Regions from separate parts of the Homo sapiens genome. Here region 2 is linked to region 1. Evidence: fine-mapped expression QTL. Tissue or cell type: whole blood. Region 1 holds a variant in brackets; the other region holds the start of a gene. All regions are shown on one strand. Distances are between the middles of the regions.

The links. PIP is the estimated chance that this variant, and not a neighbour inherited with it, causes the effect.
Region 2: it holds the start of MYO1E, and the variant in region 1 is fine-mapped to the expression of MYO1E in whole blood (INTERVAL, PIP above 0.99).

What each region holds. Positions count from the first base shown.
Region 1 is chr15:59,345,351-59,348,108 of GRCh38, reverse strand. All of the region lies in intron 1 of MYO1E (myosin IE), which reads left to right. Among named protein-coding and RNA genes, the nearest start is that of MYO1E, 26 kb to the left of the region's middle. The variant A/G (reference allele first, on the strand shown) is at 1,378.
Region 2 is chr15:59,371,653-59,374,410 of GRCh38, reverse strand. It overlaps MYO1E (myosin IE), which reads left to right and starts at 1,540. Exons shown (of 28, transcript NM_004998.4): 1 at 1,540-1,913. The coding sequence starts at 1,911. RefSeq lists enhancers at 1,252-1,756, 1,757-2,260 and a silencer at 2,276-2,595.

The DNA.
Region 1 (2,758 bases):
AAACATGGCGAGGCATCAAAACCACCTGAGGAGGTGATTCAGCAGGTTTGGGATGAGGCTTCAAAATCTGTTTTTCACCAGGGTTCCAGGTGATTCCAGTGGAAAAACTGATAGGAGAGCCGCTGCTTTACAGCTGTGTGGAATTGAAAATGACGTGGGTCTTGGATCATAAGCAGCAGGGTGTTTTTCTTTTCCTAGATTGTCTTCCTTAACCCCAAATTATGTAATTACATACATATTTTCTCTAGAACTTTTTTGTATTTTTAAATTTTAGCTCCTTATGTCACCCGAAATTTACTTTTCTGGTGTGAGGGGTATAATTTTTTCCAAATGCATGGTTAGTGGTCTTAAAAATAATTTATTCACTGGTGCATTCTTTGTCTCCTGTTGTGAAGTGCCACCTTTATCTTATGTTAAATTCATATCTATCATATGTTTCTAGCCTCTTCTGTTTCCTTGATCCTTTTCTTTATTCCTAAACCAGTTGCTAGTACCACATTCTATAATTACTCTAGTTTCGGAATATGTTTTAATTTTTATTTTTGGCAAGACTTTACTAATTAAATTCCTTTTTAAGTGAGTTCTTGGCAATTTATACTCATTTACTCTTCCAGATAAAATTTAGAATCAATGTGTCAAAGTTCCATAAGAAAATCTCTTTGGAACTTTGGTTGGAGTAGCATGAACCCTCTAGAGCAGCAGTCCCCAACCTTTTTGGCACCAGGGACCGGTTTCGTGGAAGACAGCTTTTCTGCAGCCTGGGGTGTGGAGTGGGGATGGTTTTGGGAGAAAACTGTTCCACCTCAGATAATCGGTATTAGATTCTCATTAGAAGCGCGCAGCCTGGATCCTGCGTATATTCGGTTCACAATGGGCTTTGTGCTTCTATGGGAATCTAGTGCTGCTTTGATCTTACAGGAGGCGGAGCTCAGGCGGTAATGCTTGCTCACCAGCCACTCACCTGCTGCTGTGCAGCCCGGTTCCTGACAGGCCACTGCCAGCACGGGTCCATGGCCCCGGGGTTGGGAACCCGTGCTCTAGAGCACTTTGAGAAGGTGAACGTCTTTGTAACTGATGCCTTATACCCACAGACATGGTGTCCTTCCCCATCAGCCCTTCTTTCAGGGGCCTCCATTCATCTTTATGCTTTTCTTTACACAATTCTTTCACTTTTTTTTTTTTTTCTTTTTGGGAGACAAGGTCTCGCTCTGTCACCCAGGCTGGAATGCAGTGGCATGATCAGGGCTCACTGCAACCTCCACCTCCTGGGATCAATCAATCCTCCCATCTCAGCCTCCTGAGTAGCTGGAACTACAGCTGTGTGCCTTCATGCCCAGCTAATTTTATTTGTTTATTTTGTAGAGATAAGGTTTTGCC[A/G]TGTTACCCAGGCTGGTCTTGAACTCCTGGGCTCTAGTGATCCTCCAAAAGTGCTGGGATTACAGTCGTGAGACACCATGCCCAGCCATCTTCCCCATTTCTTAAGTTTATTACTGGCATTTTATTACCCTTGTTACTGATTTGAATGGGATATTTCCTAAAACATTGTCTTTTGAAAATATTAATAATTTTATCCATAGTTCTTATAATTTAATGGATATCATGTCATAACCCACAGAATTACAAGAATCTCCCTCACCTGAATATAGAGGGATTGTAGCATTTTGAGGCATTCCATTTTTTACTCTTGCTTCAAAAACATGAGACAAAACAGGTTCTCCTCAAGTGTCCCAGTGCACTCTTCTTCATTAATAGAGTGGCCTGGGCTATGGGGCCGTCATTCGTAGGCTCTTTGGCAGGGTTGCAGAAGGAGCTGAGTCTGGGCTGAATGTGATCCATGGTGGGACACAGCCTGCAGTTCGTGCTTCTGAATAGGTCCCTGGTCGGGGGCTGGATGTTCAGTGATGCACCTCGTCATCCTGAGGTCAAGAAAGCACAAGTGGAAGAAGGGGAAAGATGTGTTAATTCTGCCTAGCTGAATGAGGGATTCAGAAGTGGGAGCCAGACCTTTGCTTACAATCTCAGAAGGAAAAAATGTTGATTCCAGGAATCAAGTAATTCTAAGAACCAATTATATAAAAAGTGTTTTGCAAACTATAAAGTGATATTCACTCACATGCATTCGGAAGTACTACCTCCACGTGTTTTAGCTGCATTTGAAAGTCTTTTAGAAAGAAAGCAATGCAACTGCTGGATAAAACCTCATCCCTCTACCCCAGAATTGTTGTCACAGCTTTAAGGAAGTTTTATGTGAAAGCAGAGGAAAGTAACAGTAACTCTTTAATCCAGACATGTGTCTAAACCATGGATAACTCACAGAAGGCCTTAGAGACTCTGAGAATTGGTAAATATTCTATACATCCTTAGCATCCACAGGCTAAATACCCCTCCATTCCCTGAGTCAGGGCATGCCAGCTGTTAACAATGTTCTATTCCTGGTACCTCTCTCTTTGCATTTCCCTGTCTTTCCTCAATCATCTTGTATCACAGGAAGTATAAAAGTAGTTAGGCAGTTCTATTTTTTGACAGCAGATGAAAAGCCAAAGTTAAAGGTCAATGCTTAACCCACTGGCTTCTAATAAGCTGGTAAAGCTGGGCAATATAGTAAGACCCCTATTTCTAAAAACATTTTTTTAATTAGCTGAGTGTGGTGGCACATGTGCCTGTAGTCCCAGCTAATCAGGAGGCAGAGGCAGGAGAATCCCTTGAGCACAGGATTTTGAGGCTCCCCAAGAGAAAGCTGAGGCTCAGAGAGGGTAAT
Region 2 (2,758 bases), 26 kb before region 1:
CCATCTCCCCTCTCCCCCAGCCCCTAGCAAACCACTAACCTACTTTTTATCTCTATAGATTTCCCTATCCTCAACTTTCATTTAAATGGAATTATATAATATGTGGTCTTTTGCTCCTGGCTTAACACGATATTTTCGAGATTCATCCATGTTGTAACATTTTGTTTACCCTTTTAGACAAGATAAAGTTTAATACCCTTTCTAACTCTATGCTCAGATAGTCAAGTGAAGAGCTACAACCAAATTTCTTTTTCCTTTCTTCCTTTCTTCTCTCTCTCTCTCTTTCTTTCTTTCCTTCTTTTTTTTTTTGACAGAATCTTGCTCTGTCGCCCAGGCTGGAGTAGAGTGGAACGATCCCGGCTCCCTGCGACCTCCGCCTCCCCTGTTTAAACGATTCTCGTGCCTCAGCCTCCCGAGTAGCTGAGATTACAGGCATGTATAACCATGCCGGGCTAATTTTTGTATTTTTAGTAGAGAAGGGGTTTCACCGTGTTGGTGGCCAGGCTGGTCTCAAACTCCTGACCTCACGTGATCCACCAACCTCAGCCTCCCAAAGTGCTGGGATTGTAGGCGTGAGCCACAGCGCCCTGCCTCAACCAAATTTCAGAAAGTATCATAATATCATTATGCTTCATAGTTTCTCTATGCCCTGAAGTTTACCAATTTTATCTTCTACAGATTCCAGGAAGGCAGCCTGTTAAGACTCACCAAATTTACTTCCTCAGCCTCCAGAACAATAAAATCAAACTCCCTACCTTGATTTTAAGATTCTGCTTCCCCCCACCCCGCCCCACCCCAATCTTCTCCTTGGATATTCGACAGTCTGGAATAATGCATTTTTACAGTTCTGATTGTTTTCAGCAGATGTGTTGGCTGAGGTTGGATGGGGTTTCTTCCCACCTATCTCTCCTCTCTCCTTCCCTCTGCCCACTGCACGTGCAACAACTTTTCTGCCATCAAAACGTGCAAAAAAGAAACAAGAAAGAAAGGAAAGAGAAAGAAAAGAAAAACAGAAAAAAGAAAAGAAAAAGCAGCCGGAAGTCTTCCTTTGTTTTCCAAGGAAATTCAGGTAAAAGGAGGGGTGGGGAAATGATATTTTTGACTTTGCTCACAATCCAGACGTAGGAAAGAAAAAGGATTTCCTTTGGGCTGCTGCCACGACTCTGATGTTTTATGCTGATAAAATATTTCCTTCTTAAAAAAAAGTTCTGGGAAAATCATGCCCCTTCAACTTGGAAGCGAAACCCACCCTAACTTTCGTCTTAAAACGCAGCGAAGTGAAAGGTTTGCTCCTCTTTCACGAGGGTTTTGTTCCTTACAGTTCGGGTCTTGCTACCAGGAGCGAGCTGGGTCCGCAGCGTTCTTCGGTGGCTGGCGCGGGAGGAGGACTACAGGATCCAGAGATCTTTGGAAACTCCAGCAGCTCCAAGCTTGTTGGCTACTACGGTTTCCCTGAGGAGTGACGCTACGAAAACAAACCCTGATTGGTCAGGCCTGAGCTGAGTTCTCCATTTATGGACAGATTGCCCGGCCCGAGCCGAGACTCAGCCAGAGGAGTACGGATTAAGTGGCCGAAGAAAGAGGAGTGAGGCAGGGGAGCGAGGCGGACGCTCCGAGCGCATCGGACTCACCTGGGCCGGCGGCGACCGGCGAGTACGAGTGGACTCTTGCCCTCCGCAGCATGCGCCCCGCCTGCTAAGTCGCCGCCGTCTCGCCCTCACCTAGCACCGCCAATCCCGCCTGGATGGAGTCCCCTCTGGGTTCCCATTGGCTCCTGTGAGTGCTTGGGTGTCGGGAGCCTGTTTTTGGCGAGGGGAACCAACTTTTGAAGTTCGCCCAGAAGACTGCGTTCCAGCCCCAGTTCCCCGGCAGCGGGACCCGGCGAAGACGCGACCGCGGCGCGAGTCACCATGGTGAGTTGGCCGCGCCGCGTCCTAGGACGCCGGACCCGGGGACGGGGCAGGAAACCCCGGCGTGGTGCACCCACCTTGGGCGCGCTGCCGGGGCCAGGGGTGGAGAAGGTGGACGCGGGAGCCGGCACGTCGCGAGCTCTGATTTCCTGCCGCTTTCCGTAAACCCGGGCCGGGGGAGAGCGAGCGAGGGGCCAAGGAAAACTTTATTCCAAGTCGGTTTCTGCGTCGCGAAACTTTCTGTGGCCGGGTTGCTATGGCTGCCAGCTGTCGGAAGCCAGGGTGTGGGCGCATCGGCTGCGAGGGGCACGGCGCGGGAGGGGGTCCCCTCCTCCTGCTGGGACGTGGGGGGCGCAGCCGGCAGGGGAGGTGCTCGGAGACTCGCGCCGCAGCCGCTGGCGGCGTCCCCTGCCCTCCCCGCGGCCGTGCCCGCCCCGCCCCGGGCACCCTCGCGCCGACTCCCTCTCCTCCCCGCCGCCGCTCCGCTGCCCGGCAGCGCCCGCAGCTGTCCCGCCTGGCAGCGGCACGCGGGCGGGGGCGGTCCCTGGCCCGCCTTGGCGAGGGGCGGCGCGGGCCGCACAAAGGCAGGCGGGGGCGCCAGGTAGGGCGAGCACCTGGCGGCCGGCGGGCTGTCAAGAGCCAGGGAGACTCGGGCGCGGGCGGCAACCACGCCGCCCCGGACCTGTGCCGGGCGCCGGCCCCGAGGGTCTCCGCGCCCCGGACGCCAAGTAAACACCTCCTGAAGAGGACCCCACCCCTTCCCAAGCGCGAGGGGATCGGGGCTTTTCGGGGATCCAGGGGACGCTTCGCACGGGAAGACGCCCTCGCGAGTTTCGAGTTTGTTGCTG